3 linked regions of the Homo sapiens genome follow. The protein of the gene in region 2 interacts with the protein of the main gene of each other region in a pairwise test. Each region holds a gene or a part of one and is shown on either strand. Other genes may lie near its edges.

Region 1 (7,000 bases), on a different chromosome or scaffold from region 2:
ATACTGAACCTGCTGCCTGACCTCTCTGAGCCTGGTTTCCACATGTGTAAAATCAGGATAATACTGTCTGTCTTATATTCAAGAAATGTACCCACTAATTGCAGTGGGTGCTGAGTAAAGATTGGCATCCACTCCTTTCCCTTGCACACAGGTACTTGGGTCAATGGGATTGAGTAAGTCTTTCAGCAGTTGTCCTCAGGGGGAAAAGGCTTAAAGTACTTTTTGTACTTATCAATGATTCTTCTAGCCTTTTTGCCTTCCCACCCTAAGCCCCAGCACGCGCAATGAATATTCCAGGGCCTGTGATTGTCTTGTCCAAGGGAATTGAAAAAATCGTAAGCCAGAAAGGACAGGTCTTTGATAGAAAGTTGAAAATGGATGTAGCTGGTTTCCCTTTGCCCATTTTGTGGCCTTCCTCCTTTTTTTTTTTTTTAAATTAATTTTGTTGGACAGGGAAAAGATACAGAATTCAGGGGGTTCTAGCTGGAAGGGGGCCCTGGAAGAGCCTATAGTATAGGGCAGCTAGAGAGAGGAGTGGGCTGGCTGACGGTCAAAGCTAGTTTGGTGTGGGGGAAATTTCTGTTAGATGCAGGATTTGGCTTAATATGGGACCAATTTCCATCTAGTCCTTTAAGGCCCTCTTTTGGGACTCTGAAGTTTTTGTGCTCCAGGCAGATTTTGACTGGTTGTGGTGGCATCACAAATGAGTTTCCATAGTAAATTGTATGCTGAAAGGAAATTAAATTCCAAGAGGGTGTTTGTTGTGACTGATGCCAGAATTTCCTCTGAGAATTTTATTAACATTCAGTCTGTGAAAGTACTTCTTAGTTCTCTGAAGATAATAATTAGGAAATAGTTTTTAAAAAGTAGAAGTGTCGTCTTTGTGAGCTTTTGAAATGTCATCTTCCTAAATCTTTGGAGCAAATGAGGCTCAAAACATCATAGAGACTTATATTTTAAAAGCATTTCTTCCTAAATGTACTGTTTTCCTTCTCTTCCTGTTCCTTCCGTCCTCCTACATTATTTTGATAATGAGTTAATTTTGGTTTCTTTCACATTGTGGTGGCCTAATTTTTAAATTTATGACCCTTCATTTTTAGATCTTGCATGTATTTTTTTTTTTTTACCCTTGAGTCAATTCTCATTGATTATGAAGAGCTGGTATAGCAAGATGGGAAAGAGAGAGGACCCTGGAGCTAGGTTGGTGAGATCTAGGCTCTTTAGAACTTGGATTCGGTCCTCACAGTAGCTCTGGGAGGCTGATCATGCTATTCCCAACACACAGATGTGGAAATGGGTGCAGAAACACATGTGTGTTCACATAGCCAGCAAGTGGTTTATCTAAGTGTCACTGCAATGATCTGTAGGACTCCAAAGCCCATGCTTCCAGCTGGAAAGGCAGGCAGGGGCCTTGCATGCTGTGCCAGGGTTGGGACTTAGTCCTGTAGGCAGAGAGGGTCAGGCCTGTATTCTAGAAAGGTAGCTCGGTGGCTGTCTGGAGTTTTGAAGTGAAGCAAGTAGAAATTAGGTGTAGAGAAACTAGTTCATTAAAGTAATGTCTTGAGAGATGAGGGCCTGAACAGAAGACATTAAGACAGTGGCAGTGGTTGCGGAGAAGAGGGGGCTTGTTGGAATCCATAGAGCTTAGTGCCTTTGGATACTAGAATTGCATCATCCCTTCCCATTTCAGGTCTGATGCCCCAGGGATGGGTGTTGGAGATGCTGACTATGTGCAGGCTAAAAGCAATCTCTGCAGAAACCAAAAGTGCCTCCTTTGGTCTCTGCTAACAGCTAGAGAAAGGTGGCTGAGCACAGTCCGAAAGGGCCTTCCCTTCCCTGTGCCACCCCAGCCTTATCATTCCTAACTTTCCAGGAGCATCGCAGAGAATGAAGTTGGATTCCTCAGACTGCATTTTGGGAAATGCTAGTCAAGGTTAGAAGTGTGGAAGGGAAGACGCCTTCCTGGGGTATTGTCTGCACACCCCTCTTCCCTGGTGGCACAGGGGACCCACCAGGGTTTGGTCCTCAGTTTTGGCTATTCCATAAGAGTTGATCTGCCCTAGATGGGGTTAACTTGTGGTCACCAAACTTGCAGGGGTTGACTGGGAAGCAGGAGTGGCAGTGAACATAATGGCCAGCCCCAAGAGGAGTCGAGGCCAGCCTCCTCTGACGGGTGCAGTCTCTGCGGGGCGCCAAGCCATGCTCAGGGAAGCGGGCATCAGAGCCCAAGGAGATGATTGGCTGGGGTCTGCATGTCCTGTCATCGGTAGGACGCACTGTTGCCATGTCAGGAATATACTGGTTTTGTGCCCTTTCCCCTAGTCAGTGCCAGACGTGGTCATAAACTTGCTTTTGGGCTTCCGTTTTTCCAAATTGTGCAACATCCCTGCCCTTCTGAGAGTTTGTGCTGGCTCTGGTCAGGCCGGAGGTCAGGTGGTCAGATTCTGGCTTTATTTGGGCTGTGTTCTCGCTGCGAGGAGGAAGCCAGGTTACCTCTGTTGGACCTGCCTGCTCCCAGCATCTCCAGCAACAAGCTGTCTCTGCCGGTGAGTCACTCCGTGCAAGAGTCTGCTCACCCACTTTCTGCTTGATGTTTACACTTTTCCCTCAAAGAGGGAACCTCTTCTTGTTCTGAGGGCACTTCTCGGCAGTCCCCTAGAGTGTCCAGTTGTTTCTTTTGTGGGGTAAGAACCCGTGCCAGACAGGTACATGTTTTAATGGGAGAAGAGCATTTCTGCCTGTGGATATGAGCTGTCATGCCTACCTCTTGAACATTATGTCCTGAGCAAAGCCCTTTTCTCGTTCTTTTTGCTTCGTGTTTAGGTGCGTGTTTGGGTGTGTTTGCTTTAATTATTACTGGGAAGCAAAAAAGATATTTATCAAAGGTTTAAATCTATAGCAGTGCCCCTGCAAGCAGAAAGAAGAAGTATATATTTAGCCAGGATATCATTGATTTATCACCCTTTTTTCCATTTTGTTCCTGTTTTGTTGGCAGGACCATCTGATTTGTATACTGGTTCAGTTTGGATTTCAGTAGTGAGTGTGAAAAGATTCCTGGGCTGTTTGCCGAAGTGGAGGGACTCAAATGCGTGGGCTTCAGGGCTGCCAGTCTTGGCTGTCCCTGCAATCCCAGGAGCCTGGCACATGGTGCCTTTGTCAGGAAGGTGGAGTTTGGCCAGGCCGTTTCTTTGGCTTTGCCTGGGAGCAGCTCTGCTGGTGACAGTGGAGGCCTCCCTCTGCCGTGGGAAAGGGAATTCTCTCTTGATTCCGGTTTTGGCTTATTTCTCATCCTATAGGGATGAGAGGGAGGAAGGCCCCAGAACTAGTGAGTTTTGGTGATGAGCAGGTTCAGGGTAGGACTGGTTTGCAGCTTCCACAGAGCTTTTACAGATGTTTTCCTTGCATCCCACATTTTCCTTCTTCCTTGTTAGTCCCAATTCAGTCTGTCATCAGTACTGCAGAAATTGGCTTGAACTTTGTCAGTCTTGGGAAGACCTGGAAGTGCAGCATAGAAACCTGTTCAAATTGGTGCAGCAATTTCACATCAGCATAAGTAGCTTGTTTTGGTGGTGGTGGTTTTTTAATCAGTTTAGGTGCTTTTTTTCTGAAATCATATAGGTAATATGTAAATGTATTCTCCTGCAGCCTGCCCTTGCATTTAAATAGTGCAGAAGGACACAGCAGACTTGTCACATTCCCCTTCACCCAGCACCCCTCCCCAGGTGCCAGCTCCTCCAGGTCCTCAGAGATAACTGGTGTTAGCAGTTGGATCCGTGTCCTGAAACTGTCAAGCCTGTATACACAAATACACTATGGTTTTCCTTCTTTTAGAAGCATGAATCTGATTGCATCATACTGCTTTTTTCACATAGTATATTTTCGAGAGCTTTTCATGCATGTAGCTCTTCTCTGTTCTTTTAATTTGTCTTTTATTTGCCTACAAAATATTTTCCAGTGTAGTTATGTCATAATTTATGAATTGGTCCCCTACTGGTAGACATATAAACTAACTCATTAGTTTTGCTATTATATCTTCATTCATACATATTAGTATGCACATGTTTCTCTAGGAGTAGAATTGGCATGTCAAATGTTAAATTCATTTAAAATGTTGCAGCAGTACCCATACTATGCTCTCAAGAGATGTGCTAGTTCCTGTTGTCAGTGGTAATGGGCTGCCATTCCCCTGGGTGAAAGAAATGGATCATTGTTCAGTAGGCATTTCATTTATTATTGGTGAGGTTGCAAACCTCATCATTTGGCTTCTTTTTTTTTTCTTGATAAACAGACATGTTTAATGATAGCTTGCTCTTCACAGAGATGTCTACGGAGACTTTTTATCTATAATCCAGGAGTATATAACCATGCAGCACAGACCAATTAGCCAAATGCAAAATAAACTAGATTCTTACCACAACTATCCTATAAACACTGCAACTATTCTTTCCAAAAAGACCCTAATCTTATGTGAAAACACCTACTGTGGGGGAACCAGAAACCTAGCTATGTGGCCAAAAGGAAAAAATAGCAATTCAGTGGTTAATTGGTGAAAGCAGGAAATGTATGTCCTTTACTGTGCTGCTGTTGCTGCTGCTGCTGCTGCTTTGGTCTTCTTAGTTTTGTTCTTTTTGTCTCTCTTCTTCAGCCCATCCATGTTAGCTCTCAGGAGGTTTGAATAAGCCATCTGAAACTTATTCACTTCCTCGGAGCTCACCACTGTGCTGATCTTCTTTTTCCCATCGGTAGCTCTTAACAGACACTTGTTGTCTGCAGGCTCAAAGCCCTCCACAGTACCTTTCTTTGGAATGGATTTGGTTCGACTGTCATACTTCTTCAAGGTGATATGATGCTGCCTGATGTCCAGCACTTCTGGAAAAGTCTGGTCAGCTCCGTCAGGAGCTGCTCGCTCTCCAACAACACCATCGCGGCGACTCTGGCTCGACTCCCTCTGCTTAAGCCCCTAGCAGTGAGAACTGGTTATTTGGCTTCTTGATTCTTATTGCTGAGATCGTAGATGTTAAGAGTGGTGGGTCCATAGCAACTATAGAAGATGAGGGAACCAAACCCTCAAGGACCATGGCTCAGCTCAGGGTGGTGTAAGCGTCATGCCACCAGTGGTGGCATTGTGGTACCTGGAAGCAAGAGCTCCTGATTTCACATTCTCTGTTTCTCCCGGATGCTAGTTATGGTAATAGGACATTTTAATTTTGGTGTAACTTGCCAGAGTATTTCTCCAAACCTTTCATCTGAGGAATCAAGGGTCCGTAAGTATTAAGATCAGTCTGTCCTGTGCTGCTGAGGCGTGGATTGGAGACTGGGGAGGGGCACTGGGAAGACACTTAAAGATTGCGTGCTGGAAAATCAGGCACTGTTGCTTCTGGAAAAGCCTCCAGGAATGTGGTAAAGCAGATGTTTTCTTCTAGTTGCATGTGATTATTCCCCCTCTCCTGGCTTGCTATGGGAATATTGTGGTGCTTTGACCCTTAGCAGGATGCTCTGGGGAGAAGCGATGACTTCTTAGAAGGTGTTTGAGGGGTGTGACACAATGGGCTGGCAGAGAAGGCGTCTGGTGGCTTCCATGAATGGGCTGATCTCGGGGCCCTCCCTGCAGGCTGGGCTGTCCAGTGGACACAGTGGGCTTCGGAAAGCCCTGGCTTACTGGACCACAGAGTCCTTTACCTATTGCTCAAAGGGGCAGAGAGCAGGAGTGGTGGAGGGGGAACCCTTGGGAGATGAAGGGACTGCAGAGTTGAGCCACACTGGACCCAGCTCCCATTCAGCACCTTATGGGTGTGTGCCTTGAGCAGCTATTTTATCTCCCTGGGCCTCAGCTTTTCCCTGTAAGTTAGGAATAATAATTAGTACCTGCCTCACAGGGTTGTTGTGAAGATTAAAAGAATAATGTTTATAAATCTCTCAGCATATTACCTAATTAGTACTTGGTAATTGTAAGTAACTCCACCTATTTGTGTTCCCTTTTCCATATATATATGTATCTCTCTCTCTCTCTCTCTCTATATATATATATATATATGTATGTGTATATATATGTGTATATATGTATATGTGTATATATGTGTATATATGTATATATATGTGTGTGTGTATATATGTATATATATATGTGTTTGTGTGTGTGTGTGTGTGTGTGTGTGTGTGTGTGTGTGTGTGTGTGTATATATATATTTTTTTTTTTTTTTTGAGACGGAGTCTCATTTTGTCGCCCAGGCTGGAGTGCTGTGCCGCGATCTTAGCTCATTTCAACCTCTGCCTCCCAGGTTCAAGCAATTCTCCTGCCTCAGCCTCCCTAGTAGCTGGAATTACAGGTGTGCGCCACCACGCCTGGCTAATTTTTGTATTTTTAGTAGAGATGGGGTTTCACTGTGTTTGTTGGCCAGGCTGGTCTTGAACCCTGGACTTAAAGTGATCTGCCCACCTTGGCCTCCACAAGTGTTGGGATTACAGGCGTGAGCTACCACACCTGGCTAATAACTGTTTTAAAATGAGTGACTACATATCATATTTGCATATTACATAAGTAGACTTAATCTGGTAACATTAAAGAGAAGAGGTCAGGAGATTAGTAGCTGTCGGGGCAGATGAGGGTGGGGGCTATGGGAATTAAAAGGGATGAAGGTGGGAGGCTTCGGTGGAGGCCTTAGGTGGGGCAGGAGAGTTGAGTTGGGATGTTCTCTTCCAATACCATTGCTCCTGCAGAATCCCCTCCTTTGTGCACATCAGAGCCCCACACGCAGAGGCCTTTTCTCTTTTTTTAGATAGACTGAGGGTTAGGGGATTGCTAGTGCAACCTCTACCCTTTATTTCGAGGTGGCTGAGTGGGGCCCTGAAAGCCAAAGTGTCTGCCTCAAGCTACACAGATGGCCAGGACAGAGCACAAGTAGGCCCAGCTCTCTGTGCTCTGGGGAGTTGAGATTTCTTTCCCTTCTTCCCTGCACTGCCATGTGTTGCTTATAGCCAGATGCAGGAAAGAGACATGGTG
Region 2 (6,738 bases):
CAGGCCCTAGCTCCTCGCCTAGAGAACTGATTGATCTCCTCTGGTACTCTCTCACCAGATGGCTTGACTGTCTAAAATTTACATCTTAAATCACCTCCTGGTTTAAAAGAAGTAAACCCAGCTAACTATATGATGAAGTGTGACCCCTGGGAGGGCACACACATTTCAATTAGGTTCAGTACTAACCTACATTTTTCAGTTTCCTCTGTATCCATCCTGTTTTCCAGGCACGTGGAACTTCCAGTTCCTTCTGGATCCACTTTCACTGGTGTCCCACTGTCATTTCCATCAGGGCACACTCTTCTTCTCTCCTGTACTTCCTGAGCACTCCTCCCGTGAGCGCCCTCCTGCCACTACCTGGAGGCAAATGCTCTGAATGCCACAGTCCCGAGGCACTCACGAATGCTCACACTGCGGTGACTGTCCCCACAGAACACCGTTCACACCCTGAGCACTGTTAGGAACTCCACTGCTGGGGAAGCCAGATGACTGGAAGGCTGTGTGTAGGCGAGGAGGCCTCATCGCCTGAAACTCCCAGGCAACAGGTGCGACAGAAAAATGATATACTGACAGGAAAAGTTTTGTGAGAGCTTTAATGGCACAAAATGTTTATAGCTACAAGTTATACATGTATTGTAAACTGTATATAACGATACAAAGTGCTAACTAAAATAGATGAAGAATGCATAATCACTTTGGCTCAGTTAATTCCAATAATTTCCACAACGGGTTCATGAAAAAACTTATCTGACTGGCTAAGTCTTCAATTCTCATTTTTTTAGAATAGTAAATATTTTTACTGCAATCACGGGAACTTGTTGCACTTTCCAATGTGCAAGTTTGTGCAGTTTTGCTCTTGATTCTATTTACAAACATCTTGAGCCAGTTTTCATCAAACATATGAAAAATGAAGCCTGCCTTTTTGTCCCCAAATTGTAAACAGGTGTAAAGCTTTTTAAACATTAACCTCACAATTTCAACTATTAATTGTTGAATTCTCCTTTCCAAACCACAATGTTTTCGTTCAACACAAATCTGGGTGTAGCAGTAAAACGTTCATCCCATGTGTTAGGGCTACAGATACATACTACATGCTCTCATAATAAATTCTACTGTGATGATGTATTCACGTTTTAAGTAATTTTCCATAATTTCACTGATGCTTTAAGAAAAAGGGCAACACTATGTTTCTTTTTAACGCTGAAAGAAATCATAAATATACCCAGTTTCAGTGGCACCACTGATAGAACTGCTGCTGAACTTGGAAAGAGCACAATGCACTAGCTGTAAGAAGTCACTTTCAGGTAAAGTGTAATTTTACTTTTCCCCCCTGTAATACCAATTGTAATAGAAATTGCATACTGTAGCAGTTTAGCTAGTCAGTTCTCCTAACTTTCCAGTCTTTCCAATTTTATTCAGGCTTTTCAAAAATCAGTGAGCCATCAGATTTACTTTCTTCCCAAAGAAATTCAAATATGAACACTTGAAATAAATAGGTTATAGAAGGCAAATCAAGTGTTACCAGGTTTAAGAGTAAGACAGAAACATGGTCTAGGAAAAAGATGTCCAAAATTATTTAGACATCAAATGCTAGAAAGAAAAAAGAAAATTACTTTCAAAACTAGGATATATCATCTTTCTTAAAGATAGCCAGCTATATTCTTGAAAAAAGATAAAAATTTTGTTTAATCTATATGTTATTTTCCACTATAACACATCAATTTTACAAATGTTGATGTGAGAAAAGAGTTAGTTTCTGCAAACTGGCAAACCTGTCTGTCATAGTGTTTTTATTCAAGTTGACCTGGTGCACTTTATAGATTGCTAGTTTTAAAATTAACAACGGTTCTCTAAATAGTCAATATCAATGTCTATATCATAAACAGTAATTATTTATATATAAAACATGTGGTATCCTTCAGAGTCATGCTAGATGTTCTGAAATCCAAGAAAATCTACTCGAGATAACTGGTCATCCTGATGCTTTCTAACAATTTGGTCCTAAAGCTTCACATTTTAGAAATGAACGAACAAGTATATCACTGAAGGAATCTGTTGAGTGTTCTGAACTTTAAGAGTTTACCATAACTGAAAAGACAGCTACATGAGAAAATGACCAGTGCCTGCAGTCGCAGGAATCACCTTGGGAAGACTGTACAGTAAACATTATTCAGTGAGAGATCAGAAGGAAACAAATGGCATCTTTTCAGAACGCTGTCAACTGTTCCCACAACCCAAGTCTGTTTTTCCAAGTTGCACAAGTGCTTGGAATAACTCTGAAACAATTCTCTTCAGAGTTTAAAGGCTTCAGAGTATAGGTGATGCTTCCTAAAACAAGAAGCCTGTATTAACATCACAAATTGGAACTCATTCCAAAGCCTCTTCTTAGAGAAAAAAAAATAAAGAAATAAAAAATAAAAAATGTAAAGAAGGTCATGAAAAATTCACATGCAGCTAATTATCGTAAAAAATATCAAACACACACGCAAAAATCTCAAAAAGCAATTTCATATATTTCTAAGCCTGAGACGTTCCTTATCAGAAAGAAAGATTCTACACCATAGAAAAGACAGCATTACAACATACTAGTATGAAAATCTGCTGATGTATTTTACTTCTTATTCTATTTCATACCTATCATTTATACAGTTTGCCTCCTATAAATTAAAAGACGCTATTAGGAGGCTTAGACAAAAAAGTGGCTCCAAAGCTGGTTTAAAATATTTTTTTTATTGCCCAGGATATTTTTTTGTTGTGCCTTGCCTTTTTTTTTTGTTTTGTTTTCTTTTTAATAACTATCAACTCAAACTTAGGGAAACTTGCCTTTGTCTTGGGGGAAAAAAAACAACTAGACAATAAAGCTTCTTTTACATCATTTGCTAACCTGATCTCGTTTTAAGAGAGAGATGGTAGTTATGTTGCAAGAGTAAAATTTATACCATGAATGATACAGGTCTAGTCTGGTGGCACTAATTAGAGATAATAGCATTGCTGACAAAATTATAATCTGCTGGTGGCATTTGCGGAAAAGAAGCCCTTGCAAATTTCTAAACAACAGTAAACTCTGTTAGGAAATTCTAAAATGTCTTCAGGCCAAAAAGGGTATAAGGTTAGTAAAATGCCTCAACAGAGTTTGAATAAAATATTGAATTTGAGAGTTACTGGAATTGGATATGTAAAAACAGGGTGGTAGGTTGGGTCATGCTTACAATGGTCTCAAGTTCAAATAAGCTACTGTGACAATACACCACTTCACAGGTCACACGCATTTCCAGGGGCTTTTCCTTTCCCTCAGTAGGTGCTGGCAGAGGGTGTGCTCAGTCGCTTTCCAATATAGATGCTGAAAGGAAGCAGAAGCATCATGTTTCACCTGTTTCAACAGTTCTATACCAGCTTGTCCACAGGTTGAACTCTACTTAAAACTCTTCAGTCTTTGTAAAAGGCTCTAAAGGTTTGTGGGTACCGCTCCCCAAACACCGTGAAATCATCACTGACTTTCTTAAAACCAGTCACCAGCCCGGCCAAACTGGTTTTATATGAGTTTGTTTACTCATTAAATATCGGGGCTCGACAGCAAAGGGGTAGTGATTAGACAAAGTAAAGCCAGAGAGAACAGATCCCTCCACAGAGTAAATAAAGCAGCCCAACTCCTTCAAGATGTTCCTCTTTGGTGGACAGAAGGTTCTACTGACATTTCAGACACAAAAATATAGTAATATGTGAAATTATTCTGGTGCTCTATGTAGGACAAAAGAAAAAAAAAACCTTAAAAGCTGCCAGTGCTTTAAAGACAGCTCTTACTAATAACTCCTAAGGATTAGGGGCCTTATAATACTTTTTCATGCCAAGAAAGTATTTGGCCTCTTCAACAGCAAAAGCAGAAGGGAAGTTAAGGAAAGTATGTAACTAGCTTCACCTCCAGTGCAATTAAAGCAACGAACTTTTTAAACACTCTTTTTACATTCATCTATAGCAATAGTTATACTTACAGCCAAGACAAACAATCTGAAGATGACTGAAAGAGAGACGGCAAGGTATAGACACCAATCGCTTAAGGGCAATGAACTGCTGTATAGGCAGCAATGTATTAAACTCCTACACCTGCCCCACATCAACCCCCACGCAACAGTCACACAGTCCCCTTCTGCACAAACCCCTTCTAGGTTGCTGTTTGTTGATTACTGTCCTTGCCCTCACAAAAGCAGATCAAGCACCCAAGAGAGACAAGACGGGTGTGTGGAAAGCTGTATGCAAGTTTCTGAGGTCGTGACTAAGAATCTCTCTCCAATATGCTGAGCTCCTTAAAGGGAAGAAAAAGGATGACCCCATCTTCTGCATATCTTATACTGAAAATGACCCACTGGGCATGCTTAGAGCACAACATACGTCTTGAAAAAAATTAACAGCTACTGTTTAACTCCTAAAATCTTTCAGAAGTGTAATTCCTCAATTGTTTAAATCAAGGAAAAAAAGCAATTTATTTAAAAGATGTGGCTAAGAAACTAATGAATTACACGTAAATATGAGGTTGATTTTAGCAAAATAAATGAAAATACTACAAAGTTAAAAAAGGAAAAAATTAGCACCAATCAACCTACCAGTTTCATTAAAAAAAACTATTCAATGTAATCATGTATTTTCCCATATGAAAAAAAGGTATTTGCACTGACCACAAAATGTACATGCTAAAGATTAGTTTAGTTCATAAATTACTCAAGATTAAATATTACACAACAAAACCCAAAAAGAAAAATCAATCACAGAGGAGTCCGCTTACATTTGATCATTTAGGGGATTATTATGAACATCTTCTTTTTTTTTTTTTTTTTTCCGAGATGGAGTCTCACTCTATCCCCCAGGCTGGAGTGCAGTGGCATGATCTCGGCTCACTGCAATTTCCGCCTCCCATGTTCAAGCGATTCTCCTGCCTCAGCCTCCCAAGTAGCTGGGACCACAGGCATGTACCACCATGGCCAGCTAATTTTTGTATTTTTAGTAGAGACCGGGTTTCACCATGTTGGCCAGGCTGGTCTTGAACTCCTGGCCTCAGGTCATCCACCCATCTTGGCCTCCCAAAGTGCTGGGATTACTGGCATGAGCCACCACACCAGGCCAAACATCTTATTTTCAAATAAGAAAACACACTCTACTATTATTAAAAATGCTTATTTGTAGAACAATTGTGCACCCACTTTTTTAAGTTCACCTTATTTGCACTAAAACATTGAAAGTAAAGCAATAAAAACTGCTTTCACATACATTTCTTCAATCTGAAAATAAGAGGATAAAATGAATGGAAAAAACTTCAGGAGTTGACCGGTACTTACCCTAGCCCCAAAGCCAAAACATGAGAAAGGAAGAGAGATGGAATGAACACCTTCAGAAATTCTGCGGAGAAAATACCCCCTTTCTTCATGGCTCCACTTTTCCTCATGCTTAAAGACACAGAACGTTTAGGGTGTCTGAAGTGGAACTCCCTGAGAAAGAAATTCAGAGGCAGATGTCATTTGCTGAAAATATCGTGGGGATTACCAGGCCCATTGCCTGTAAGCGTGCGCAGATCAACTGTGTCCACTGACAAGAAACATGTGAGAACTCACTTGGGTGGAATGTTTTCGGGTCTACTGGACCAGTCTGATACCCAGTCCGCACTTTTCTTCAAAGCCTCGACTTCCTTCTCTCCTTCTACAACTTCTTCTTCTGACTGTAAAGAAGAATTCAAACTTTAAGAAAAAAAGGAAGACCAATTCCTCCTAATACAAAGAAAAATCTAGACAGAAAAGATACCAAACTCATAAGGTTGTGTCTCAGAAATTTTAGATAACAAACATGTTGCTTTTCTAAAAAATGCTGAAAAATAATGTAAGATCAGAGTATGTAATATCTTCAGAACAACCTGAGTGAGCTTCACTGTTGGGATATCTAAGCACAGCACAGGAACTGCATAAGACTGTACTTTGGGATGTAATGCTAAGGGAAGTATGAAAAACCTCGATAAGAGTTAAATCTGGGCAATACTTACATGGAGGTCCATTATATTATTCTCTCTTGTATGCACTTAAAATTTTCGTAATTAGGCCGGGTGCAGTGGCTCATGCCTATAATCCCAGCACTTTGGGAGGCTGAGGCAGGCGGATCACTTGAGGTCAGAAGCTGGAGACCAGCCTGGCCAACATGGTAAAACCCCGTCTTTACTAAAAAAAAACACAAAACTTACACGCTGGGTGCGGTGGCTCACGCCTGTAATCCCAGCACTTTGGGAGGCCGAGGTGAGCGGATCACAAGGTCAGGAGATCGAGACCATCCTGGCTAACACAGTGAAACCCTGTGTCTACTAAAAATACAAAAAAATTAGCTGGGCGTGATGGCGGGCACCTGTAGTCCCAGCTACTCGGGAGGCTGAGGCAGGAGAATGGCGTGAACCCAGGAGGCGGAGCTTGCAGTGAGCAGAGATCGCGCCACTACACTCCTGCCTGGGGGAAAGAGCGAGACTCCGCCTCAAAAAACAAAACAAAACAAAACAAAAAAAAATTAGCCGGGCATGGTGGCGGGCACCTGTAATCCCAGCTACTTGAGAGGCTGAGGCAGAAGAATCGCTTGAGCCTGGGAGGTGGAGGTTGCTTGAGCCTGGGAGGTGGAGCCGAGATCCAGCCACTACACTCCAGCCTGGGTGATAGAGTGAGATTCCATCTCAACAAAAAAAAGAAAAAAAAAAATTTCATAATTAAAAAAATAAAA
Region 3 (7,000 bases), on a different chromosome or scaffold from region 2:
GGTGCAGTGAACTAGATTGCACCATTGCACTGCAGCCTGGGCAACAGAGCCAGACCCTATCTCTAAAATATAAAAAATAATAATTAAAAAAAGCAATAATAATAGCTCATACTCAACACTTACTCTGTGCACATTAACTCAACAAATTCTAATCCTCTCAACAAAGTCTAAGGTAGCTATTATGGTACCCATTTTCCACATGAGGAAACTGAGGCACAGGGAAGTGAAGTGGCTTACTCAGTGTGGCCCAGGTAGGATGCGGTAGAGCTGGGATTCCAACCTGCATCCCAGCAGACTCCAGAATGGACAGTCAATTGGGATCGTGGAAAGGGCACGGGTTTTGGCATCAAACAGGTGTGGATTCACACGCCAGCTCCACCCAGGGTGACATGAATCTTTTCTTCCTGAGCCCTAGTTTCCTCATTGATAAAATAAAAGGTTGTTTTGAAAAATAAAGCACGCTTATGAAGGGCCTAATGGAGCTTCTGCCCCAAGGTGGGGGCTGGACATGCAGGCGTCCATCTCTCCCTGCGTCCTGAGGAAGTCTCCTGATGGCGGGTGGGAGGGGAGGGCTGTCCGCCTCTGCCATTCAGCCAGCTGTGGGCCCCTGGCCAGGGTGGCACCTAGTGGGGTGGGCCCACAGGCAGAACAAAGAGCATCAAGGAGGGCTTGGGAGCTGCTCCTCCAGGGAAGCCATCCCTGCTCTGCTCACCCTCGTGGGGGAGAGGCTGCTTGCAGCGGGCAGGGCGGAGAGGGAGCTCCCTGTTCCTAGCGCTGGCCCCCTATCACCACCACCCCCGGGCTTGTTTCCCCCCCACACAGCAGGCGGCGGCCACCTCTGCTGCTCACGTCGCGGGGCCTGCCTCTCTGCCTCTCTGCTGCTCCTCCTGGCAACTGTGGCGGCCCTCATCGCCTTGGTCACCATTCTTGGACTCCCATCATGCACCCCAGGTCAGGGCGGCCAAGAGAGGGTGGGTCAGACCCGGCGGGGAGGGCATGGGAGGGCACAGAGAGATGAGGGAGCCCCGACCTGCCTGGCTTCTCCACCAGGTGACTTTGGACTAATTCCTTAAGGTGCATGCACAGACACACACAGACACCTGCACACACACTGACTATACCTGTTTCTGAGCCTCCATTTGCACATCTGTGACATGATTATTGAGAGGACCCAGCTCTGATGTCACCTCCTCCAGGATGCCTTCCTAGACCCCCAGGATGGGTTACGAGCCTCTTCTCAGCCCCCCAGTCCCTACACTTCCTCTTCCCCTGGCCTGGCCACCCCGGGGTGGTGCTATCCAACTGTGTGCCCATCTCCACCACAGGGGACCGGGTGACATCCCATACATGCCTGCAGCCCCAGCTTCAGGGGTGAACAACCCCAACACAGTGCCTGCCTTCAAGGAGCTAATAACTGTTCCGAGAGCCGTCTAGACGTGAATACACATTACAGCGGGGTCCCTGGGAGCCCTGAGAGTCTAGCCCCATTGAGGAGTCAGGGTAGGAACAATGGGTATTAGTAGTGGGGGGATGCCAGGAAAAGCATCCCAGGCACAGGGAACAGCATGTGTGGAGCCCTGAGGGGTGGGAGGAAGCAGGAAGAGAAGAAGAGACTGCAAGAGGCCAGTGCACAGGAAGGGCTGGAGTGACAAGTGGGGCCCAGTGCCAAGGGCCTCACAGGCTGCACCGAGAAGGGAGGTCATAGTCCAGGAGCCACAGAAAGGGGATTAAGTTGGGGGCAAGTTGGGGGCAGGCTGATGTTTCTGAAGGATGGCTCTGCAGCCAGGCAGGGTGGGTATAGAGGGCTGAGGTGGGGGCGGGGGCTGAGATTCGCAGCGCTCCCCCTGCCCTGCAGGAACACAGACCCTGAGGTGGATGAATACATGAGCAGCTGCAGTCAAGAGCCTGTGTGCACATCTGTGTGTTTAGCGTGTCTATGAGTGTACGCAGCTGTGTATGCATGTTCATGTCTGTGTGTCAGTGCGTGTGTGCACATCTGTTGTCTGTGTATCTGTGAGTGTGCACATAGGTGCAGCAGTGTGTGTGTGAGCATGTGTTCATGTGTGTGTGCATCTGTGTGTGTCTGTGTCAACATGAGTGTCTCTGAGAGTTGCTCCCCCCCGCCGCCTCCCCCACACACACTAGCTGAGGCAGCCCAGGGACTGAGAGGTGGTTCACGCATGCACAAACACAAATGCACAAACTGGCTCCCATCCCCAATTATGCACACGTATACACATGTGGGGCCAAGGGGTTCCTCCTACCTTGTCCGTAGGTTTCTGCCTTTTAATTCTTTGGGGCAGCCCTAGGAGTGGGTATTCCTTTTCTCCTCCCATATGGGGGGCTAATGATGACGTGTCGCAGGGGTGTTTGGGGAACTATAGAATAAAGATATGAAAGTGCTTTGCAGTTGTGCCCAGATAGAAGGAATTATGACATATGGCCCTCCAGCCAGCCCAAATATATTGCTTCTGACACTCTAACCTGGTACCAGGAGCTCCACCATTAAAACCACTTCACTGAATTGAACATTGTCCTCAGAAGCTTCCCATGACACTGTAAATAAGTTTTCAATACAAGAGAGAACCATTACTAGTTCTGCACATTTTCTGTTCTATGTTTCTTCACAGAGATGCTTTCATTTAATCCCCACAACAGTCCCACGGGGTGTGTGCTATGATTCCCATGTTGCAAACAACCTGAGACTCAGGGTGGTCAGGTCATCTGCCCAAGATCAGGCAGCCGGCAGCGGGTACAGCTGGGGCTTGAACCCCATTGATGGCGCTGGGTCCATCCTCCCCACTGCCCCAGCCCCTCAGGCCAGCTCTAGGCGGAGTTCAGGTGAGGAAGGTTTGTCCTTGTGAGCACCACCCTTGACCCTCCAGGGCCTTTCCCTGCCCATTCAGGAGCCCAAGCTTGTATAACACTGACAAACAGGACAGGCTTCTTGTGCCATGACCAGAGGAGCTGCATTCCAGCCAGTGGGGTCTGTGATGGCGTTCGCACCTGTACCCACGGCGAGGACGAGGATGAGAGCTTGTGCCGTGAGTACCCGCTCGGTGCTGCCCCTCCCAGGGGTTCCCCCACACTCCGATGCTCTTGGCATCCATACTGAACACATCAGGCACCTTCAAGTCCCCATGGCTTTGATGCTCCAGTGCCTTCATCCAGGAACACCTGCCCCGACCTGGTCCCAGTCAGGGACACACATACATGCCCCCACTAAGGAATGCCTTCACCCTGTGCGTCTCCACTCCCAGAGAACCCGTATTCATCCCTCAAGGCAGAGTTCAAATGTTACCTCCTCCAGGAAGCCTTCCCTGACTCCCACACTAGGTTAAAGTGTCTCCTTTGGGCTTCCACAGTCCCTGTGATTCCCTGTGTCCCAGCCCTTGTCACACTGGTTGTCGCTCTTGATTGGCACATCTGCCACCCCCATCAGACTGTGAACTCCTCTGAGGCAGGCCCAGTCCGCTTGATATCGGGGCCCCAGTGCCTAGCACAGAGGGGTATTCAGAACGGCTTGCTGAATGAATGAGCGAATGAATGAATGGGAAGACCTGGCCCCAGACCTTAGACACACCTGAAGGTTCTCAGGAGAGAGGAGCCTGACCCCACAGGAGAGAGAGAGCCTGGAGAGGTGCAGTGGGTGGGGTGGGGGAGCTCATGGAGGGAGAGTCATTGCATCACAGACCCTCAGGACAAGAAGCAATCTCAAAAGCATCTAGTCCTTGCCCCAGCTCATCCCCAATCCCCTCTCTAGCAAGCCCAACCGAGGCCACCCAGCCTCTGCTTGCATCCCAGGGGATGCAAGGATTGGAAGGTTTTTCCATGGGAAGGTTTTCCTTGTCCCAGGCTTAGAGCTGCCTCCCAGAGTGGTTCCTCCCTGATTGGTTCCAACTCTGTCCTTCTGTCAACCCTGCCCCGATAGACCACACTTTAATTTCTGCCATGATGGTGGTGCTGCATGGATTTGAAGATTGCTCCCTTGCCCTCCATGAGGTTTCTCTTCTCTACGCCACATCCCCTTCTCCAGGTCACAGTCAGCCCCCTTGTGACCCAGTTCCTGGCCCTCCCCACTCCATCAATGCTCCACAGAATGAATATCAACTTCCCATGTCCCCGTCCCTGGACAGGCCTCAGAAACATCCTCAGCCCTTCTAGCTGGGTCTGGGCAGTCTAACGAACAGAATCTTGCTCCCTCCCTGCCCAAGGTTTTCTACCTCTAGTGATGTGGCCTGAGTTTGTGTGAATTTTTGATAGCCCTATCACACTGCTGCCTAACAGAACACACTTTCAAGAAAGGTGCTCTGACTCTGCCTTACAAGGTGTGTGAACCCTAGATCTTCCCCTGAGATCCGGGGCCCAACTGTAAGACTCCACATTTATTCCTGTGATGTTCCAGTTGGAAGAGGCTTCCTGGAGGTGATGGAACTTGAACCTGAACTTGAAAGAATGGTTTTGGATAGGTGTCAAGGAGGCTCTTTGTGGAGGGGGGCATAGTGTCAGCAGTGGTGTGGGGCAGGAACACACCAGAGCTGGGGAGGAACTGAGGAAGGGAGGGGCAGATCTCTGGGCCTCTGTCCAGCAACGGAGCTCTCCTCTCCCTCTGACTCCACCACCTCCCCAGGAAACCTTCTGCTTGCACCCTTCTGGGCTGGATGGGCACTGATCCTGAGTTTGGCCACTGCCAGGGTGGTCAATCCTCCTCCCGATAACCCTCAGACAGCTGTGGCCAGATGTGGACTTCTTCCTGCCTCCTCTGTACCTCTACAGGAGATGTGCCCCAGAGCCTCCCCCACTTCCTTGTGGCCCACTGTGGAGACCCGGCCTCCTGGATCTACTCAGACCAAAAATGTGATGGCACTAACAACTGCGGGGACTGTTCAGATGAACTGAGCCCAGGTAGGGGTCTGGGCACAGGCTGGGCTGGGGCTGGTGTCCAGGCAGCAGCCAGAGGGCAAAGGGTGAGCAGGGAATCTCTAGGGCTCCCCCTTGCATGCTTCCCTGCATCCTAGGAAGGAGTTTTCTACCCCTGCTTGAATACATCCTGTGATGGGGTACTCACTACCACTCCAAGTGACTTTTTCTGGAGGCTCATTCTTCTGCAGTGGGGAAGTCACCTTCAAAGGCACAGATGAGAAAACTGGGTCCCAGAAGGTGGTCATGCAAGGAGTACATACATGGCCCAGCTGGGATTTGAACCTGGGGTTCCCTTATCTCTGCACCTCCCAGTGACCCTGTGAGGAAAGCAGGGCAGGAATCACTGGCCCCAATTTGTATGTAAGTAAATGGAGGCTTTGAGAGGAGAAACTTAGTACAATGTGTGACAGGAAGGGAGCTCAGGTGTGAACCCAGGCCTCCTGATCCAAGTCCCGAGTCCTGTAGCTGCCCTAGAGTTTCCTCTCAATCTCTTCCCCAGTGGTCAATCAACAAACATGTTCTGAGCATTGGTGGGGTGCTCAGAACGCACCTGGTATCAGATTCAGGTGGGGGACATCAGGAATCAGGCATGTGTCCTACCCCCAGGACTCACATCATGCTGATGCCGAAAGGAGGTGCTGGGGACCTGGAGGAATCAAGGGAGATTTCTCAGAAGAGGTAGCATTCAAGAAGACCAAGAATAGACGGGTTTCAGTAGGTAGAGGCTGGGTGTGTGGGGAGGAATGCCGGAGGCCTGAGCAGAGGAGAGAAGGCTAGGAGCACCCTCAGGCAGTCATGGCAGGTGAGCATAGCTGGACTCAGGGTAAGGAAGGGCACCCATTCATATTGCAGTCTTTACCGTGTGCCTGGGACTTTGCCTGACATCCTTTGCTTGATAACAAGCTTGAGCACACTAGGAAACAGTTTCAGACAGGGTGAGGGAGGTCACATAGCCTGTGAGCTGTGGAGTCTAGATTCTCTCTGCCGCAGGAAAACTAGGAACACACTCAACTCACGTCAGATGGGTTGGGGCCATGGGGAGCTACGGCAGGTTTCAGAACTAGGGAGTGCCCTGGTGCACAGAGCGTTCCAGGACACAGCAACTGCTCTCCTGCTGGCTCTTGTCTCTGCAGTAACTGTGTGCCCACCCTGCGGCCCTGGGTGGTGGCGCTGTCCTTCAACCTTCTTCAAGTACTGCGACTGTATACCGAGGCATCTCTGCCGCGACCATGTACAGCACTGCTCCGACTGGTCCGATGAGTATGCCTGTCCCGGACCCTGAGTGGGCCACTCAGGCCAGCATGGAAGGCTGGCTGGAATGGCACTGATAACCCTTCACATGAAAATCAAATCCTAGCGCACAAGGGCAGGAAGCAGCCTTTGAAATGGGATCTACACATCATTTCTGAATAGGAATTTTCTCTCCTCCTTTCAAGTTGTTCAGCCTCTGCTTGAATGCTTCCAATGACCAGGAGCTCATTACCATGTTAGGTGGCTTCTAACAAAGATGATGTGGTGGAACCCCGTCTCTACCAAAAATACAAAAATTAGCCAGGCATGGCGGTGCACACCTATAGTCCCAGCTACTAGGGAGGCTGAGGTGGGAGGACTGTGTGAACCCAGGAGGTCAAGGCTGCAGTGAGCTGTGACCACACCACTGCACTCCAGCCTGAGCAACACAGTGAGACCCTGTCTCAAAAAAAAAATGAAACAAAACACAAACACAAACAAAGACGAAGGGAATCTGCTTCCATGATTTCATGCCTGTCTCTGGGGCCACACAGAGGAAATCTGCTAACTGCTCCAAGGCATACTTGTGGATCCTAATCTCGTCATCCCTTAGAGTGATGACATGTCTGGGGCTTAAATGACAAGCCGAGTTTAGCCTTCATGGATGGCACATACGTGAAACATATGCCACTTCCTACCCCTTTGGTACCTAAGGCAGATATACTGGGCTTGGATGCAACTTTAGCATCTTCCCCAGTTTAGTTAACCCAGCAGGCTCTACTGATTTAACCAAGTGACACAGCACATGAAACAGGATATCTGGCATCCTACCAGTGGGAAGCCACCC

The links. The genes of interacting proteins can lie anywhere in the genome.
Region 1: the proteins of BNIP3L (region 2) and SMCO4 interact in binary tests that used the Homo sapiens proteins (3 or more experiments, as listed by UniProt).
Region 3: the proteins of BNIP3L (region 2) and LDLRAD1 interact in binary tests that used the Homo sapiens proteins (3 or more experiments, as listed by UniProt).

What each region holds. Positions count from the first base shown.
Region 1 is NC_000011.10:93,533,392-93,540,391, reverse strand, and holds part of SMCO4 (single-pass membrane and coiled-coil domain-containing protein 4), read left to right. Parts: intron 1-7,000.
Region 2 is NC_000008.11:26,406,966-26,413,703, reverse strand, and holds the end of BNIP3L (BCL2/adenovirus E1B 19 kDa protein-interacting protein 3-like), read right to left. Parts: intron 5,705-6,738; coding exon 5,601-5,704; intron 5,478-5,600; coding exon 5,328-5,477; intron 3,341-5,327; coding exon 3,292-3,340; 3' UTR 577-3,291; downstream 1-576.
Region 3 is NC_000001.11:54,008,187-54,015,186, reverse strand, and holds part of LDLRAD1 (low-density lipoprotein receptor class A domain-containing protein 1), read left to right. Parts: intron 1-822; coding exon 823-951; intron 952-2,906; coding exon 2,907-3,044; intron 3,045-4,776; coding exon 4,777-4,905; intron 4,906-6,056; coding exon 6,057-6,205; 3' UTR 6,206-7,000.